2 separate regions of the Homo sapiens genome follow, and region 2 is linked to region 1. The links come from fine-mapping of genetic effects on gene expression. Tissue or cell type: whole blood. Region 1 holds a variant in brackets; the other region holds the start of a gene. All regions are shown on one strand. Distances are from middle to middle.

Region 1 (10,728 bases):
ATTCAATTCCTTTCAGACAGGAGCCATTGATACCTAAAAGTGGAGCAGCTCTGGAGTTTTGTTTTAATTTCAAGATATTTAGATTTTACGCCTTTAAGACCTCCAGTTACCTTAGAGAGTCCAAGTGCATTATGTATAATGTGCATATGTCTCTGCAGACCACATAGTACATTCTCAGGAATTCCTTAAATAAATGTTGGCCTCTGAGTCATTTCTTGATTTCACTTGCATGTCTTCTTTTTTTTAAGCCAGGCATTAAAAAGATGACACAGAAAAATTACAGAGTCAGCATATATTTGAATACTGGATAAAAGGGAAGAGGATGAAATGGATTTTTCAAAGCTTCTAAAGAAAACAGAACTAGGTAATACATGATGTTGGACTTAGTCTAATGATTTGGACATTTAATGAGACATGAATAAAAATGGAATAAAGTGGTAGAGTTGTGGCTTTTTATCCTTATTTTGAAAATAAATTTTCAAAAGAGAACCCAAATACAAAAAGGATAAAAATAAAGATTCTCTGCTTGAAGTAAAGACATGGAACCCAGAGCCCTATTCAATGTCTGAGCTTAATTTATCCTCCAAGTTTGTCCTGACTTAACTCTATGGAACTTTCAGAGATCTTTGGAGCACAGTTTGAAAATATACAACCATCTGATGGGTAAATTACCTGAAACTTTGACCCCATATAAGTTGCTTAATTTTTGACTGGCAACTGGGTAGTATGAAGGACAGCTAGAAATGTTTCACCAAAGCCATCTCAGGTGACATAAGACATTGAAATATCAACACAAGGGAACAGTATATGTGGCCAGCACCTTTGAAAACCAACTTATATATTTAGTCTAAATGTAAGAAAATCCGCAGTAAAAACCTTGAATGATATTTCTTTGTCAAGGCAAGTGAAGCTAAATCTGAGACGAAAAAATAACATGTGCAAACTCTCCCTGATTGCCTCATTTCTTTTTTATAGTGTTGAATAATACATGTATATTTATACATATGTATATATTTGCGAATCACCTCAAGCTCTTTTTGGCAAGAGGTGAGAAACGGAAAATAGTGAAGGAGGAAAGAAAGACTTCAAAGACAAGGTGGAAAAGAAAAGCTAGGTGTGATAAAGATCCAGGGGTCAAAATGGATAAATTTGGGGAGAATTCAGCCACTCATTCATTAATTACTTATTAAACACTGAGCTAAGGATCACATGCCAGGCCCTGGGATACAAAGATGAGAGTACTGCCTCAGTAGAGCTGACAAGCTAATAGTCCCTTCGTCTGCAAAATGAGGCTAATAATAGTAATCACTTCACAGGGTTGTGAGGATTAAATGAGATGATCTGTGCAAACCACCTTGCATTACTGAACTACTTAATAAATCAACTACTTTTCTCCTCGTTTCTTCCTGATATTTCACTCTAAATTGGAGACGGAAAGAGAGATTCATAAGAGTGTTTGGATTTTAATACACTCACACTCCAAATTTATTTTGAGCTGCTCATGTTAATAGCAGCAGAACATTTCTTTCTTCTTTTACTCCTGGTGTTAGAAAGCTTTAAGCAATGAATTGCAGTAGAGACTATAGGAGTAAAGTGTGAATGTATGCAAGAATATTTGAGAGAAGAAATAAAAACAGAAAATAAAGACCAAAGGGATGTGTACAATAATTGAAGAGTGGCCATTGTATTTAGGACAACCTTCCAATTATCCATAAGGATCATTAAATAAGGGAAAGAAGAATCAGCCAGCTAGTGCAGCTCCAGGTGACAGTCTCCAGGCCTATTCAGAGGTTTGGAGTACATTGGAATTACAAATCAATGCAGATTAAAGTCATCTCTCCCTGATCAGCACCAGGTACCGAACCTCAGCATCAACAAGACCGGCCCAGATTCACTTGGATCGCTGTAAGGCCGCCTATCTCATGGAGGCAGTCTAGATGAGTCTAGATAGAGGACAGATACGTTAAGATTTTTGTTTTTGTTTTTTGTTTTTTAGGCCCAGTGCGGTGGCTCTAGCCTGTAATCCCAGCACTTTGGGAGGTCGCAGCAGGAGGATAGCTTGAGCCCAGAGTTTGAGACCAGCCTGAGCAACACAGTGCGACCTCCATCTCTACAAAAAAAATTAAAATAAAAATAAATTAGGTGGGTGTGGTGGTGCATGCCTCTTGTCCCAGCTACTCAGGAGGCTGAGGTGGGAAGATCGCTTGAGCTTAGGAGGTCAAGGCTGTAGTGAGCTGTGATCACACCACTGCACTCCAGCACTGGGTGACAGAATGAGATGCTGTCTCAGAAAAATAAAAAAAAAAAAAAAGTTTTTTCAGAAAAAGAAGAAACAGGAGCGCAGTCATTAGGGAGCAGCAGAGTAAATAAAATCCTAAACACCTGTCTCCAAACCTCAATCAATGGTAAACAGCCGCTGCTTGCTGTCCTTAATTTTAACGTTTTTTTTCTTTTCTAGTGAAGAAAATGTCCCGATAGAAGAAATGACTGATGACATAAGGACAGTGCTAAATTAATAACCAATCATTCCTCTTCCTCCTCCAGCTGTGTAGCAGACTCCTCTTATAAACCTCTGCGAAGTTCTACTTGAAAAGCTGTGGTTTCATTTCAAAGGAAACCAGCAATCAGGGGGATCTCTACAGGAAAATCTCTTCCCTATGTCTTCTTTAGACTCTTCAAAAAGGAGAGAGAGCACAAAAAAAGAAAATACACAAGTAAATAGGTTCAAGTACATCAAGAATCACAGTTTCTAAAAAGGCTAGTGAAAGGTCAATGACTTCAGAGTCAAGAAATCCATTTCTAATGTTTCTTCAGCTGTGACTCATTGTGAAATGTTGAGGAGGGTCACAGAAGCCTCCAGCCCTCGGTTTCCCCAGCTGTAAAACAAATATTTGAATAAGTGGCCAGTCCACATTATAGCTGATGTGCTTTCAGGGACTCAAAATGAGAATCATAAATATGTAAAAATACAAAGATAAGGTGTTCCCTGTAGAAAAACACTAAACTAGCAGAAAAAGAAACATCACATTTGTGTGCTAATTGGGTATTCCAGATTAAAGTAATTTGTTAAAAATTATTGGAAGAAAAATCCATAATTTGGCAATAAAAAGGATTTCCGTAAGAAGAGACAGACAAGATCATAACAGATTCAGTGACTCTAGGTTACTCAGCCAAATTAAAATGCTCTCCTTTCATCCTCGAAGGGAAATCCTTGAGAAGTTTGTGGACCGTCACCATCTGTTCAGCAAAACATGCATCAACATAATATTTTCCACATGTTTTTTGTTTTCTTTTTAATTTTGCAAACGGAGATTAATCTTTTCCTAGTCAGAATGTTTTACTATAACCATTGTCAGAGGAAATAAGTGGAAACTCGGTTTTGATCCCACTTCTCTCCCTACCCACTCGCCACCATTTGCGTTTTCTATGGTGATGTGTGGATTAAAGCTGAGGAGAAACTAATAATTCACATCCTTTGCAGATCATGACAAGTCTGTATTTCATAAAACTGGAGAAATCCTGCTCTGAAGCTCATTTTTCATGCAGCTACAAAATCATCTCTTTCTTCTCATCAGAACTCCATAGTGACATCCATCAATAGCTGGATCAAGGCCAAGAGTGCCATAACCACCTACGGATTCACTCTTCGCTGTGCCATGCCAGTCAACTATGCCCTTCCCTACTATCCTTCTTCCACCACCATTCCTCTGACTGTCAGGCTCAGCAAACAGCTTGCAGTTGGTCAATGAGTGCTTACCAAGCCCCGGCTCTGTGCCCAGCATCATGCAAAGCATAAATGGACATGGACAACAGTCTTAAACTACTTCCTACCCACAAGCAGCTCACAAACTTGTTGGGAAGAAAGTAGAACAAGGAGAGGAAAAGACAGTAAAAGCACCCACTGTGACATGGTAAAAATGATGTTGACAACAATAATGATGGTGCTGGGATCTAACTCCTCTATTTTGCCTGTAACTTGTCTTCCGAGTTTCTACACATTGGTTGGCCAGAGGAAAATTAACTTTGAATTCCATCTAGTCAAAAGTTTAGTATGGTCCAATAATTATAGTAGTCCCTTTAAGAAATGCTCAGCTGTACAATACTCATTTTCCAAAAAGCTTAAATCTTAGAAAACAGTTCCCTTGTCCATTTAGGTGGGTTTGTGTAATGCTGATCAAAGTCTGGTCCATCTAGGACCTCTGATAATATTACTGTCACTCCCAAAGCTAGGTTTATTTCCACCTGGTTGCAATACTCATAAAGAAAGAAAACCACTAAGTGATGTGTTAATAACAGGTATGTATAGAAAGCACCACTGTTATTTTAAACAAGTAAAATGAAACCCAAAAAGTTTGGCAATACAAGAAGTGCTATGGGCTAAACTGTGTCCTCACAAAAATTCATATATTGAAGCCCTAATGTCCAGTACCTCAGAATGTGACCGTATTCGGAGATAGGGCTTTAAAGAGGCGATGAAGTTAAAACAAAGTCATTGAGGTGAGGCTCTAATTCAACGACTGATATCCTTATAAGAAGAGGAAATCTGGACATAGATGGGCCCAGAGGAAAGATCACATTAAGACAGAAAAAGAAGATGGCCGCCTACAAGCCTAAGAGAGAAGCCTCGGGAGAAACCAACCCTGATGACAACTTGATCTCAGATGGCTGGCCTTTAAAATTGTGAGAAACTAAGTTTTTGTTGTTTAAGGCACCCAGTCTGTGGTACTTTGTTATGGCAACCCTAACAAGCTAATACAATAACCAATCTCTAAAAAACATCTCTCTGTGAATGATACAAGAATCCAGGGTTCTGTTTTTCTCACTGACATTTTTGCTGTTTTAATACTAAAATGGTGTCTGGCATAAAAAATGTTTGATAATGTTTGTTGAATTAATAAGTAGATATTATCTTTGCTGTTAATTCATGATACAATTTTAATACATTTTACCAACCTAAATAGAAAATCAAAC[T/G]GAAAAAGTAACTTCCTCATTAAACAAACACAAAAAAATTCTAAATTTACATGCTAGGTAATTTCTAACAATAATTTTTTAAAAGGATTTTATCTTAATTTTCATTTATGTTTCTATAGCCAGAGTCTTCCCAAGATTCAATACTTTGTTTGGTTTCCTATCATCTCAATGATCTCTTCCAAATCCTGCTGAAGTTGTTAGAAGTAAAATTATCTCCATCTTATAAATGGGAAAAGTAAACTGGCAAGTCAAAGAATTTTCTAGAGAATAGGCCCACAGAGAAGGCTGTTAAACCAGGATGGAGAGATTTAAACACATACACCTAGGGGAGGCAGAGAAGAGACGGGAACATGAGGTGGCCTGAAAATGAGCACAGTATTTGAAGGTCTCCCAACATGAGTTTGATCACATTTAAAGCCCACCAATTTAGAGCTTTTTCAAACTCCATTCAAAGGGGGTTTTCCTGACGTATCTGCAAAACCTAATAAGAAGGCCCTGTCCTCTGTGTAAGCAGCTTTTCATACATGCATATATTCATTTATTGATTCATTCAGTAACTACTTATTGAGCATCTACTATGTGAAAGGCATTCCTATCAGCCCTGGAGATGCAATCGTGAGTAAAACAGACAGAAATGTCCCTGCCCTCACGGAGTTTACATCCTGGTAGTGGGGACAGAAAATTTAAAAAAAATAAATAAGTAAAATATGTGTCAGTATTAAGTACCATGGAGAAAAAATTAAACAGCGATGAAAAATATAAAACGTAAGGATGGTTGAAATATTCGGTCAGCCAGGAAAGGTGTCATGAAGTTGAGTTAGGAAACTGACTACATGAGAAACATTTAAACACCTTCTTACCTTGTCAGACGGTATTCTGAGTTCCAGATTCAAGCAGCCTGGTTTCCATACACAGTACCACTTTTTATTTATTGTGAGAAAATTGCCTAATTTTGTGTCTCAGTTTCTTTATCTGTAAAATGGGGATAATTTTTTTAACTAGTAGAGTTGTGAAGAGTCAATTTAAAAACAAAACACATTTAGTGCTTAAAACAGTGCCTGATGTATAAGAACTCAATAAATATTAGGTTTTGTAGTTGCTTTTGTGTTTTTTTTACTTTCTATGATCTAATTTCAAGATTGTTAAAATGGGACTCATAATGCCAGGCTTCACTGAATTTTTGTAGGAATCTCACGAGACAAGACATAAAGAGCCCTTGGAGTTTGGATCATAGTAAGCACTAAATGTATGCTTCCTGCTCCTGTTACCATTGTAACCAGGCAACATTTTTGTTTTCTTAACTATTGCAACAGTATTTGACTTGGAACAATAGCCATCGGGAATAGAAGGTTAGATCCTGAGGACATGGACGTACATCCACAATAATCTTAGCATAAAAGAAAAGAGAGATAGTTAAGCTTCTCTGCACTTGAAAACAAGAGGATGGGAGTATTGGGAGAAACAGAAAGCAGAAGAGAAAAAGGGGAAGGAGAGAGGCACCGAGGAGCTGTTGTGAAGCTGGGGATTTTATAGGATGAGGGAAGGGTATCTATTCGCTAAGGATGGGATAGTGGAGAAACATTTTACAAATAAAGATGAGTCAAGTTAAATTTGAAATTATTTTTGTTTCAACATGAACTGCACTTCTGTCTCCTCATGCCACCAAAAGTTTTAATAAATACATTATACTCACAAGTGCTTTGTAGGGTCTTTTGTGCAAATTAGATGTGCCAAAAATGACCGTGAAAATGTGGACTTCACAGAATTTGGAGAAAACTTAGGGAGGACTTTGGACTTCTACAGGGAATGAATAGAGCTTGAGACAATCCTACCTAGGTCTTTGATATCTGCATAACAACATTAATATTAGTAATATTAATTCAATCGGAGAAGCAAAACCATTAGGAAGTGTGTGTGTGTGTGTGTGTGTGTGTGTGTGTGTGTGTTTTGCTTGGGAGGAGTGGATTTATTATGGAGATTTGAACTTACACAATGGGGGCTGGTTAAAAAGTCTTTGTAAGGCTGTTGTCTTTGTGCCTGATGCTGGAGCTTGAAGTCCACAGCATGGGTCTTCAGGAAGAGAAGATAAGATAGAAAGTAGGAGTGAGCAAGTACAATCCGGAATTTACAAGGACAGGAACAGACTGCAACCCATATCAGTTATAATCGCCTCTAACCTTGATGATGTGGGCATCGTGCCTGAAGGAGCCAGGGCTCTTTGTCACAGAACTAAATACACATGTGGCCCAAGAGTCAGAAAACTGAAGGGAGGATCCCAGAAAGGTGGGGCAGTTTTAGGCCAAGCTAAAGCTATAATTCTAATCAAACTAAATTAAATGTATTTATTAATAAATCTTAATAAAAATTCCTTAATGTTTTAAAATCAAAGATAAGTTATTATCTCTGGTAATTATCCCTTCTGGCTACTTCATTCTCAATGATGAAAGCCTGTGGTTGGATAGAGAAGTCAGAAAAGACAAGAAAGGGAAATGTCCTATTGATGACCGCATCCAATGCTCAGTTTAATTTCTTTAAGCCCCCAGGATAATACTGTTTTGTTGTCTTCGATTATCGTTTTCTATAAGCTAATGGCCCTTCACCTATTTAAGCCTGGTGTTCCATTATTGGAATGCTAAGCACGTGGGAATTATTTATATCCTACTGCTCAAGGTCATCACCAAGGTCTGATTCCAAAAATTCCAAAAATTGCAACCTCAGGCATGAATGGGTTAATTGGAAGAGGAATCCTTAGTCCGTCGGTAAGTTCTAGTACAGGGAAAAAAAAATAGGCAAATCAATACCTAATTTTCTGACAGAGAAAATCCATTACAAGGATGGTTGCCTTTGAAAGTATCTCAATAGGAGTCATATCAAGTCTTCTCATTTCAATGACTAGAAAAATGAATAAACTCTGGCTAGACAACTTATGAAATTATCCATCCCTGCATCATCCATCAGTCAGATGATAAGGTCCCAAGCTATAGTGACTGGATAATATTCATATAAAACTTCAGCCTGGTGGGAGAAAATAAATCAAGTTGTTACACTGTCACTATTTCCTAATAAAGATTTTACAGCCTGAGGTTGTGAAAGAATAAGGGTAATTTTTAATCGTTCCTTTAAATATACATTTCTATGTGTATAAATACACAAGCATATTAAATATATTATTTTCATTAAAATAACTTTCTCATATCAGGTGAATATCTGGAGCTAGGTAAGCAAAGCTAAAATGCAAATGTGGTCCACCATAGTAAGACAAGCCATTCTACTTATAGGATGACCTTACATAAAAATTTCCAAGGCGTGGTAGGAAAGCAAGTGCTGATCTTTCCATCTTCTTGCTAAGTGAACATTGCTCACTCCCAGTACCATGTTTCAAAGACCAACGGGCAAATATCCAATTCTCCCAATTGTTCATTTTTCTAGAAAAATAGAGATTACAACAGAGACCACCTAACTGCAATCAATTACAATATAGATGATGATGATTGATTGATTGATGATGACTATGATAGCCAGCATTTTGATGACATATTTTTACACATGTAGCTATTAATTTTGACTAAAACTACTTTTTATATTCCATTGTCTTCTGCGATGTCATGAAAAGGCCAAGTATAGCACTCCAAGTACTGGTGGACTGGGGATTTTTTAAGAAAGAGAGGAAAAGTACAGAAACAGATGCAAGAACTCTGGGTCAGCCAGATCAGCAATCAGGGGGTGTCTGAGGGTTTCAGTCCTCATCACTCCACCACCATAACTCCCATTCACCCTTTAAAATTCTATTTTGTCTTTACTGTTATTCTTCTAATATCAGCACTATTCTCTATGAATGAATCCTTCTTATCATGCAGCCAAAACTTATATTACTTGGGTACAGAGAACAATCACATCATACCACAAGTCTCCCTGAAGCAAAATAGTTAAAAGCACATTCTTTTTAGTTTAAAATTAAACAGCCTCATCTGACTTTCTTTTTCTTTTTTTTTTTTTCTTTTTTTTTTTTTTTTTTGATGGCAGCAAACACTGGATCTGCCTCAAGCCTTCCCTGGCTGCCCTGCAAACTTACACCAGTCCACAGAGGTGCTGAAACCTCTGAGAGGCAAGTAACAAGCAGCATGAAAATGGAACTAATGATCCACAGCTTCATCCTTTGTTTCCAGAAGCAACTGGTGTCCGCTTTCAGAATCTCTGAGACTGGAAATGATGGGAAATAGTAAGGGAAGCTATGTGGTCCAGAAAAAAAATAGTTGTGGACCTGAATGGCTTGCCATTATTACATTTCCCTATTGGGCCAGCATACTGCCTCTTTGCAGTTTGCCAGATTTCGCCTAACCTCATCCACATTTAAAAGTCTATGGAAAAACAGGAGGGCCTTTCAGGGGGAAATTCATTCATGTTTGGATTCAGGCAGATTTAGGAACCTTTAATAGCACTGTAATTACCCTGCAGGGCACACCACAGAGCAGCCAGCAAGCTCTCCCTCAATGGACACAAAATTTCCTCTGGAATTTACAGAGCAGAAACCTTAAACACACATCGCCATAAGAACCAGATTACATAATGTCTCCATCACCCTCCTGACAGCTACAATTATGAGTCAATCCCTGGTTTAAATATGAAACCGGAAGCTCCGTGTTTCCCCTCTGACTATGTGGCAGGCTGAGTTGAGCTCTTCGGGGCTGTCAGTTTGGAGATCTAAGCTGCTCCCACAGTCACTAATTTAGCATGAGACCAAATGACGGGGTAATTAAAAGCAGTGCTGCAGAGACCCGCTCCAGGACCAGATGTTCTCCTTGTTTAATCGCTGCCCACATAAGGAACAGAAATAGCCCCCTCCTTTAATTTTTCCTTTTCTTTATCCTCTCCAGATAATTTCCGGCTTCTGATCTTTCAATCCCACAAAATAAAATAAAAATAAAAGCCCCATTAGGAAAGATGACATGTTATTGAACATATGACTGTAAGTTGTAATGCACTCTTGCAGTCTCCTCTTTGTACTTCTTGAAGCATTCCAACTCATAAGACATTAAGTTGCCCTGGCAACCTCACATGACTAACAGCTCCAGAGAGCCCCACCTAACTGCAAGGGCTCATTTAAGTCAACATGGGCCACCCCAGCACTTAGTAGCCCAGGTCTGAGTAAATAGCCTTGCTTTTTGGCTTTTTAGAACAGGCTGGAGGAGGCGGCCCCTCCCCTTTTATTGCCCCAAACACAGGACAAATAAGTCTCCACCCTAACTTCTCCAGGAACTTGACTAAAAAGGCCAGGGGTCATCTGGCAAATCAAGGCGAGGTCTTCTCTTCACGTTTCTGGCTTCTGGACAAATAAGGCAGAAGAAAAGGGAAGTTGAGCTAATAATGTATACCTTCCAAAAATGGAAAAGCAGTATGCAATATGGCTATCTCAATCTTATCAAATCAGACGAGGCAGCTTTCTTATGTCCCTTGGGATGCAGAGTCTGGTCTCTATCTAAATAGCAGGCTTCCTTGGCATTAAAGCACTAGAGGCCTTGAGGACAGTCTTGGAAATCAGGAGAATAGAGATCCAACTCTAATTCCACCGTTTGTGACAACAGACAAGCCACTTTACCTCTCTGAGGTTATTTCTTAATTGGCAGTACGGAATGACCATCCTTGTTTTTTTCTCTTCTGGGACCTGTCTCTGCAAACTTCATCCTCATCCACAATTCTCAAGCATGTGGAGTTCTAGGTTTTTAAGATAAAAGGTGCTAATGAATTGTATTTCCAGAT
Region 2 (10,728 bases), 190 kb after region 1:
ATGACTTGAAAGTCTATCCCACCAAATATCCCATCTTTGAGAAATTATAATATTGAAACATACACACATACACACCCACACACACAGAATTTTGAAGGAGGGGATGAAACGGGGTTGAGCTCTAGCCATGCCTTTACTATTGTGTAACCTCTGGGACCTCTCTGATCTTCAGTTTGCAAGTCTCTTTGTAACCTGGAGTTAATAATAATACCTACTGGGGAAGGGTGTTAGGAAGGTAAGTTCCTGAAGGGCAATGTGTATTTCAAATGTAATCCTGTTGTAATCCTATACCATGGTTAATTAGTACTCATTAAAAGGGAAAGCAATGCCATATTTAAAGCAAAATCCAAGGAACCAACCTAGAATCTTTTGTCATACTAAATTTGTGTTGCACGTGGCCTTGGATTATTTTATGATGGGTATTTCAGTCCTTCATATTTGTTGTAGTGGGACATAACCGTTAAAGAATGAGCATGCTAAAGCCATTTGGGAGAATAATGGTAAGTGCTTTATTTAGTAGTGTGGGGTCTGGTAAGCATCCTCCCTGCTAAGATTATACAGAAAATAAAGGAAATTGCAGACTGCTCATTTCCCTTGTACTCATCCTAATCTTGTGGAAACTTCCTGTAAAAGGCAGTTATAGCATTAAAAGTAAACTGATTACACACTCACCGGATACTGCCAAACCAACAATTGCCGTCCTTAGGGAAAAAAGGAAAACAGCATACTTATCCTTTATACTTTGCATTAGTTTGGAAGAACATGGGAATCCTAGTGATGGGGAAGCAGACTCATGCCAGAGGCAAGGAAACTATTTAGAAACATGGTTACCACTTAGTAATTCCACTGAGAGGCAGGGCTCATTAGCCAAGAGACTGGTTAAACTAAAGAAAAAAAATCATTTATTAAACAAAGTACATGATGAAAATAGGAAGTTCCGATTGATCAAGGCACACATTAACTACAGTTTTAAAAAACAAAATTTTAATAACATCTGCTAAGGAGTAATGTTAAGGGTAATTTTAGAAATGGAAATATGCACTTGTATTTTATGTACTTTTAGAACCTCATATGTTGGCATGGCTGTCTCCTCTTTTGGCTTCTCAAGAATACAAATATCTGATGAGAGCTTCTGGTGCAAGGCACAGTGTATGTGAAATGCTAAACTGCAATAGTATTAAGTCCCAATAGTAAGCCAGAGGGGATTCCTGATTTCAACTCCAGTGCCAGTCAGTATAGCTTCATTTTTATATATAGTCAAGGCTCTGGTATAGTATTTTACCTAAAAAGCCTCTATTACTTACGACCACTGCTAAAAAGGATGCCAAAAAATATAAAGGGCAGCCCCTACCTTCAAGTCACTAAAATTTAATTGGGAAAACAAATATAAACTCATAAAAAATGAATCAGCAAAAATAATAATTATCAACACAAGTATAAACAGCAAAGGCAAAAATAAAAGAATCTGAGAAGACCAATTCTGAACTCATAAGAAAGATGATTACTATGGGCTGAGCAATGTGAAAAAAAGAAAAGAAACTTTGAATAGGAAAATAGCATGCCATCTGCCAGTGTCTCAGTGAGGACAGCCTACTTTTTGCTGTCCTTGTGAATAAACCCTGGCCTGATACCTACATGGAACTCAGAATCCACTTGTACCTTCTTAACTTGGATCATATCCTATACTGGCAATTACTTGGCAATTGTTCTCTTGTTCCTCCCTCTTTGGCCCATGGATCCTATTGATAATTAATTACCTCGAACAGGTCATTAAATGGTTGTGGCTAATTCCTAAAGCTGAGGACAATAATACAGATAGTCACTTGTGATAACCAGCTATTGTGACTAGCTTCCTTCCCACAGGGCTACCTAGAAAACACAACTGAGCAAATATAAGTATCTCCTTTCTTGCTGAGCCCGAATGTGGCCATAGAATTCTTCTTGATTAGTACCAACTGAATGGAGTTGGAGCTTAAGACAAAACTGTGATCTGTATTTAGCTTCTCACATCTGGCTGGATCCCCTTTCCTAACTGAACTATCCCTCTGGCCTTGACCAGTGTCTATCTAAGCTTATGATATACCACTGGCCACCCTTTTTTGTGTTTAGCTGGAACACAGCTTTCAATCACGGATGTGCTGGGAGACAGGATGACAAAAATGGTTTTAAGGAAAGGGGGAGTAGATGATGAAGGACTAAAAAGGGCCAAGCACCTGGCATACTTACAAAAGCATGGCCCCATCATAGACCTAGTGATCACAATTTCTGAGCTGGGGTCTAGGAATCTGCATTTTAAGTACTTGCAGTGTATTTTAAAAAAATTATTATAGAACATTTTAAATTATAAAATAGTAAAGAGAATGTATTCATCATTAATCTATAACCAATCTTGTTTCATCTATATCCTTACCCATTCTTCCTACTCCTCACCCCAGTGGATTATTCTGAAGCATAACGTTTCATCTGTAAATATTTTAGTACATATCTCTGAAAGGTAAGGACTTGAAGAAAATGTTGCCATAAACCAATACTTAAAAAAAATTCCTTGTTTTCATCAAATCTCCAGTTAATGTTCAAATCTCTCCAGTTGTCCCAAATTTAAAAATATTTAAGTCACGATCCAAATAAGATCTCACACATTGTCTTTGGTTGGTACGTCTCTTTACTCTTAAGGTCCAGACACCCGGATAGATAAGTCGAGGCCTCCTGAGTATAGAGCAGCCAGTGATTGACAGTCAGACTAGAAGATCCCTTGGCTCTGAGCAGTAGCACCATTTCTGACTGCTTCAGAGTAGAAGACTCTGAGCTCTGCTAAACCAAAGCAAATTTTTAAAAAGTTGGTGAGATCTTTAACAACTGGGTGAGAGAACTACAAATGCGTTGTTGAAAAAAGGGCACAAAAGTGTTCTAGAAATGGCATAGGACCACCAAAGGCTGTGGATGGTTTGCTGACTATGTCTTGGTCGTGGAGTTGAGAGCAATCTTTAAAGCATTAATTTGGGCTATTGATCACATCTTGCTCCCTTTATGTAAGCAGTGTGTGGTGTATGTGGAATGTGGAAATAGCCAGCACAGTGCCTGGCTCATGACAACCAAGATTCTTCCAAAGACTATACTGACAATTTCCTTGATACACTAGAACCTCAAACAGATGCAAATCTTCAAAAGATAAAGGCCTTTGCAAATGACCGACTTTCCTTCTATTTACTTAATCATAATAACTGTGATAGTTTCATTTATTAATGGCTTACTAAGGACCAGGCCATGTGTCTAGCAACTGATAGTTATTTGTTGAATGCATGAACAAGAATATTGAATGCTTTACATTTAATCCTCAGAGCATCTGCCACTATTTTGCCATGAAGTTTATTACTATCTCTGACAAAACAGTAGTAAGAACTAGGACTTATTCTTACTGTGAATTCTTAATCTGTTCTAAGTAACTCTGTATATTATTATCTCGTTCATCAGCACAACAGCTGTGTAAGTTAAGTACTATTATCCCCATTTTATGCAGGCCCAGAGTTTCAGTAACTTGGATAAGAACACAGATTATAACTGATGGTACTTGACTGAAACTTGAGCAGCCTAACTGGTTAACAGTAGTCCTGGAAGGGGAAGAGGCCAGTATCAACACTCCCATGTATAAGTTCTTGGCAAGAATAAGTTCAAAAAGGCAGGTTTAGAGGTCATGTCTAGCACAGACCATCATCAACATTGCCCCTCTCTTTCTCAAGAGTAAGGACAATGCTGCTGCTGAGGCAGGAATCAAGTTACATAAAGAGACCTCAGAAATCAATGGGATGGTTTTTTGGGTACATTGACTGGTTTAGCGCCTCTGTTCATTCGTCAAACATTTATTAAGCACCTGCTACGTGCAAAACACTGTTAACAGTGCACTACTGTGCACGCTCATTCTCAGAACAACAATCCTGCGATTCCTGGAGAGGGATGGTAGAAGAGGAGTGCTGCCTTGTTAACGAGGTTCTCCCAACTTCTTTTTTTCCTCGGGAATTGTTCTCTTTAATGTGGCACCAGCGGCAACCTTCATTCTTAGGTCGCACAAATCTGAGAAGGAAGAGAAAAACATTGCACGCAGGGCGAGACTTATATCTGGGAAGATGCGTCAGGAACTTGGGAGCACTTGGGATTCAGTCCCCTAAGGTGGTTCATGTACAGGCTGGTTTTCTAAGTGGAGAACAGATAATAGAATTTGCAGAGCCAGGAGCTCTGACTCCTGTGGCTGGGCTGACCTTAGGCTCCAGCCCGCAACCCCAGTAGGTTTCTGTGCAAAAATCTTTTGAGATGAATGCATACTTTGTCTTCTAACAATGCATTCGTGACAGCTGTCTATCCAATCGGTCCGCCTCCGTTCAGAGCAGTTCGTGCCACAGAAGCATCTCCTGCGCTATAGTTATGCAACCTCACTCGCAGCGGGAGTTATTTCCTCCGTTCTGGCTGCGCCAGATTCATGTAACACGCCTACCCTGGGCTTCAATGGAAGTCGTTCTCCATTAACAATCACTCCAGCTTTCCGAGATGAATGCCCTGATAGCATACCCCTTGCGCAGTAAGAATCCAGGCAGCGAGGCGAGGTGTTAAAACACACATACATTCTCATATTCTCTCTCTCTCTCTCTCACACACACACACACACACACACACACACACATACACTTCGTGCATGCAGCTAGGGGACTGCAGCAGTGCAACCAGGGGGACAGCAGGAGGAGCTCTCTTTGCAGTCCCTGCTTCTAACCCCCACTAACTAAAGATGAACTCATGCCAGTTCCATTCTTTGCTCTGCAAAGAAAACACACACACACACACACACACACACACACACACACACACACACACGGCAGAAGAGAGTAGCCTCCAGATTTCCCCTCTGAGCACACTGTCTTTCTAGCCTCTTCGTTCAAGCAACCCGGATATTCCAAGCAGAGTAACGGGGAGTAACGCGCCACAACAATGCAACCTCCCTAGCAGCTCCCCTCGCAGCTCCCACCCCCGCCCCCTTTCGCGGCGTGCCAAGAGTTTGGAGCGCGCGCACGCACACCGAGCACGGTGCAGGGAGGATATCCCTCCGCCTCCCTCCCCCTTTCTCCGCTAAGTGGCTCGACAACGATTTGGGAAATGAAGGGAGGAGGGAACTACTTTCCTGAAACTTGCTATGCTGCACATGACTTCGAGTTGCAGTGATTCGCCCGGAGGCCGCGGCTTTTAGTCCTACCCACACACCCTCACAGCCTGGGCACCCCGCTCGGCAGCCCCACCCCGCGCCCGCTCTGGCCTCCGGGGAAAGCGGGCGGCCGGGAGAAGTCGCGAGGGACTACTTCGCCTCCTTCTCTCGCGGGCGCCCCCGGTTCGGGCAGCGGCTGCGGCGGCGGAAGGAGCGGGCGGCGTGAGCGCTTCCGCCGCCCCCCTCGCGGCTCCCCTCTCTCGGGCGTGAGGAGCTGGCCCGCTGAGCTGCTGGTGGGCACTGGCTGGCGGGGAACCTGCAGCCGCTCTTGTCCTCTCCCGCCGCTTCTCGGGATCCTGCCCCCCGGACCCGGGCCCGCCCGCTCTTCTCCGGCCGGGTGGGAACGATCGGTTTGCCTGCCCCTCGCCTCACACGCTCCCCGCCGCCCCCTCCACCCCCCTGAGGAGGAGTCCCGGCTGGAGCGTGTCTGGAGGAATCCGCCGCCGCGGGGCCCCTAGCCCTGCTCTGCCGGCGCCTGAGGACCGACCCAGACGCCGCCGGGGGTTGAGGGGCAGCCGGCGGCGAGGCGGGAGATGGTGGGGTGGGCTCCGGCAGGACCGCGCCGCCGCTGCCCGGAGCCTGGGCTCGGCACCCCCCCGCCGGCCCCCACCGAGCGGAGCTCTGCTTCCTCCTCGCCGCATCCCTGAGGGAAGCGCCGCCTCTGCTCCCGGGTTCTCCGCCCGCCGACTCCTTCCTGGCCGGACCCCGCTGCGCTCCACCCCAGTGGCTGGAGGAGCAGCTCTCCAGTCAGCCTTTGCAGCCCCTCTCTTTTTCCCTTTCCACCGGGCCTCCTCGGATCCCTTGGCTGGGCACTGAGGCGGGGGAAGAGGCTGGGGTCGCCACGGCGGAGGTTGCTGCCGCCACCCCCCTGCGGGGGTGGCCGGGGTTCCCGGCTGGGGGGGTACCGTTCTGGGTGAGGCATCCACCATGGTGAGGCCCCTGTGCCGCTGCCCCCGCGCCCCCCCGGCCGCCGCTGCCTCCTGCCCCTCGGTGCTGCTGTTGCTCCCCCGCCTGCTGTTGCTCCTCCATCTCCAGATCGGATCACGGTGAGGGAAAGATGAGCGAGGAGACGGCGACTTCTGACAACGAGTAAGCGCCTCATTGATCTCGATTGCTAATCCCCCTCCCCCTATCCGCCCTCGGCTCTCCCCCAGACCCATCCGAAACTTGGGTGCCGGAAAGCTTGCGACCCTGGAGAGTTCGGTGCATCTTCTGGAGATAGCTGATTTCTTTAGCCATTTTTAGTGGCAGCACCCCTCCCCATCCTCCCACATTTAGCTGCTTTCTTTTGGGGTAGGGGATTAAGTGTTGGGAGAGGATGGCAATTGTACGTCTATGAGAGGGAATAATGTGGATGGATGGAAGTGGAGTAGAAACTACCCCTTTGCCTGTGAGACCCCTGTCCCGTCCTTTTTCACTCACATACCAGTCACCATACCTTCAGTATCCATCCTACTTCCTTTATAGCTGTTTCACTTGGAAACTAATGTGTGGGAGCACCTCCTGCAGCAAACTGCTCTTGAATCTTAATTCGATGAGTCAGTGACTCTTAAATACCGATTAAGCCTTCACCCTCTCCCCCCTCCCCCTTTTAAACTTATGACCTGTAAGATTCTTGTAAAAAATAGGGTTAGGGAAACATTTTTAGAATTTAATAGGATTAAGGACACCTGGAGTGTGGGCGATGTTGAGCTAGAGTTTACCTTTGTGAATATTGGACGTGTCTTCAGGAACGGAGAAGAATTTTGAATGCTAATTTTTACCTTTCAGCTATGTGAAAACACATGATTTACGTTGATGTAACCGAATTTACATTGCTGAATATGTTGGTGATTTCATTAACTTTTAGAGCATTCCGGTTTAAGTTTTAGCTTATTTGGGCTTTCTCCTTGCTTTCCAAACGAAATACTTCGTCTTTTAAATGTTTTGCTTTAACGTGACAGCTGCGTGGAGAAATAATGGTTGGCAACACTTTTCTATTGAGAAGGGATTTAATTCCAAGCAGAATATTAGCATCCGTTTTCTTGTAATTAAGTTCAACTTTTGTTTATCTTCGGAGGGTTGGAAAGAGTTAAGTGAGTTAGGACTTAGTCATTTGGATGCATTCCTTTAAATACAGTGCATTACTAAAGTCAGACCTTTTTGAAATAACTTTTTAAAGTCTGTACCGAGTCCTGTTTAACGTAAAATAGCTAGAGAAAGGCCAAACAACATTTCCTCCTCCCTTACTCCCTCCCCACCCCAAAACACACGCTTCTGCTGAGCGGGTGTAGAAGGAGGTACATTGCTGCAGTGTCAGTGCAGTGTAGAAGCAGAAGTGGCAGCCATGTTCTGTCTCTTTTTGTGAATCGCCCTCATTTGCATAGCACACTCTTCATTCATAAAAAAAATAATTAAACATCCATCACCTTGGACATCTTGAAAGGATTTCCCAAGAAAAAAAATTCGCGGCTTATTTGTCTGTGTGTAGATTTTTGAGTTCAGAAGGTAAGAAGAATGTGAAATTTTAGGTTAAATTTAAAAACATACGCACACACAAACAACTACCCCTGTTCTGAGAATGTTGACACAGTTATGTGGGAAATATCAGTTCGGGGAGGTGCTGGGATCACGTGATCGCCTCCATTCATAAAATACCTGGCTGTCCATTCAGAGTGCAGTACAGTCTCTCCCTGCCTTCTGCAGATTAGACCTACTTTGAGGGAGATCAAGAAGTCTATCTCAGATAATGGTTATTTAGGAGAAGAACTGCTAAAAATGCTGAACCGAATGACGGTAACTTTTATTGGTATCTTTCAAAAAGTTTGGATTAAAAATGTTAAGTTTTCTTTTAGAGATGGGAAAAGACTTCTTACCAGTTTAATTTTTTTCTTAAAGCAGTGAATATCTCCTTGTTTCCTTCTGGTTGCAGCTAATAAAAAAAGCAGATGATGGAATGTGAATTAACACAAGTAAAATATATTTTTTCTAAATGGCCATTTTTTTAAATACTTGCCATAAATAAATTGAGACAACAGGTTTTTTTGTATAGTGATAGTGCGTTCCACTGCTATTACAGTAAATTGAGAAAATACTCCCAGTGATTTAATCCCCAAGATGTTGATATTTGAAACACCGATGGCAATCTTCAGTGAGAGGATTGCTTTAAATATTTTTTTTTCATCTAAATGTACTTAGTATGGGACAACTTGGAAATTATCTCACTCACCCAGACTTTTAAAATCGTTTTTTCACAAATTTATCCTGCTTTATTAATAAATTATTCCCTAGGAGCTTTGTAATACTTTTTAAGTTTGGGCAGGGCGATAATAATATTTAGCATAATATTTTGGTAAACTCTTCATGGGAACAAAATCTTGGGGGTTTTACTTTAAAAAACTCTATTATATTAGAAAATAATGTGTTCATCTGATAATCAGTTTTACTAGAGCCAGCATTGTTTGCTTGTGCATTAGATAAACCACAGAGTGAACTTATTTGGAATGTAGCTTTTAATATAGTAATTTATGTCTCATCTTTAATAGGTGAACCGTTTTGAAATGGAAATTTATTATTTATAGTCATTATGAAGAAAGATACGTATCATGGCAGAAGCCATTAAGGCCTTAGCACAGTTTAAAACTGCCCTGTAACATGGATTTTATTTGGGCCTTACATTTTTTTCCCTTTTCTCTTTTTTAAAGCCATTGCTCATAGGGATTTAATTACAGTAGGGACTATTTTTAACATTCTTTAGTTTCTTTTTCACCTGATTTCAACCTTCAAGAAAAGTGAAAATCACCAGTTTCCTGGGAAACCATTAACCCTTTCTAGATAGCCATTGTGGTAAAATCCAGTAGGGCCTCATTCTGAAATCCTCGAGTACATGCTTATTATTTGAAATTAAAGTTTTATGTAGAGAAATGGATAACTCCTAGGCTGACTGTGAGAATATATTTAATCAAGAATTAGTGGGGGATCTGTTATGTGTAGGGCTTTGCTTTAATGCCAAACCAAGTAAGGAAGAAATAAATTAGAATAAAGCATTTCTTAGATTGTTTCACATTTATGTTTAAAAATCTTACTTTTCAAAAATAGTAAACATACTCTAGAGCAAAAGAATTTGTGTTATAAATAGTAGAGGAAATAGCCACATACATGTTTGTTTTGTAGGTAATTTGCACAGAGACTGTTTAATACTCCAGTCAAATGTTTCCGATAGATATAACTGTACCATATTTTACATTATTGAATTAGCCTTCTAAATAGAGTTTTAAACATTTAAAGGCATATTATATAATACTTAAGAGTCTTTGTCCTTTGGTATTGAGTGTATATAGCACTGCATGTCCTTTTGTCAATTTGGCCAAAACATTTGGAGAAGTGAAGTAGCTGAAATAATAAGCATTTGGCTTATTAGGTTCACGTTAGCCAGAAACACTTCCTGTGTCAGTATTAGGCTTTCTAATAGCAAGTTGGGATTATATTAGATTTTGGAATTAGGTTAACTAGAATTAGACCATGTATGATAAACGTACTATGTTGTAATCTGAGTTTGAACTGTTTTTCCGTAAATAGAAAGCAAATTTTTATGGTTATATCATTTAGTGCCTCATAAAAAATATACCCAGTGGTGAGTTATTTTTGATAAGTGTAAATAAACATATGTTCACCCCATACATTTTACGTATGTATATGTATGTACACACACACACATATATATATATATAAAATTGGAAAACATTCTAGAAATAAATGGAAGCACTGGAAAGCTGTGTAATATTAAGCCATCTAATGTTTGTTTATATAGATGTGGTGTATACATAATATAAAAATTTGCTTATTATTCAGTTGGCCTGTGTAAAAATCAGCTAAATGACTGCATACTTGCTTCAACTTAATTTCCCTCTGCTTTCTCACTTAAAACTTTATGATCCTGAATTATATATTTTAAACACATTATGATACCATACCTAGAATTCCTCTCCTTACAAACTTTTGTAAATTTGTCATTTTTCCCCAAAAGACCTTCTCTCTTCCCCTCTTTCAACACTCTGTCCCTCTATGTTGCCTCTGTACTTCGTACATATGTATATTAGTTTTAAAATCATATAATATTGTGATTATTTACTTATTTCTATGACCGCTATTCTGTAATTCCCTACTTTTGTTTGTATGCCTAGCACAGTGCTTGATGGCAAATGCTCTACAAATGTGGTTGAATTAATGGAGCCTCATTACCTCATTTTTTTGTTTTCTCTGAATTTATGCATTTGAGATCATTAGCTGTATTAGAAAAAAAGGCCGAAAAAGAGTATGGGAAAAGTAAATTATTACCCGTTTAAGAAGGCTTACCTTTTTTTTTAAGAAAAGACAAAAATTGGCCTCATTTTTGACATGTTTTGTTTCTGCAAGTTTGAGAAATAACTTAGATCAGGCTTAAAAACTGTCCTAAAGTGCTGTTGGGATGTTTGGATGTGCTTGGCCTCTGAGTTATGTGGTGT

The links. PIP is the estimated chance that this variant, and not a neighbour inherited with it, causes the effect.
Region 2: SPRED1 starts here. The variant in region 1 is fine-mapped to the expression of SPRED1 in whole blood (INTERVAL, PIP 0.92).

What each region holds. Positions count from the first base shown.
Region 1 is chr15:38,059,647-38,070,374 of GRCh38, forward strand. LINC02345 (long intergenic non-protein coding RNA 2345) reads left to right here. Exons shown (of 4, transcript NR_120330.1): 3 at 249-364; 4 at 2,545-2,694. LINC01852 (long intergenic non-protein coding RNA 1852) reads right to left here. Exons shown (of 3, transcript NR_147201.1): 3 at 9,166-10,294. Among named protein-coding and RNA genes, the nearest start is that of LINC01852, 8.0 kb to the right of the region's middle. The variant T/G (reference allele first, on the strand shown) is at 4,972.
Region 2 is chr15:38,246,884-38,257,611 of GRCh38, forward strand. SPRED1 (sprouty related EVH1 domain containing 1) reads left to right here and starts at 5,953. Exons shown (of 7, transcript NM_152594.3): 1 at 5,953-6,334. The coding sequence starts at 6,303. RefSeq lists silencers at 4,365-4,659, 4,423-4,472, 5,303-5,602, 5,613-5,662, 5,763-5,862 and 2 more.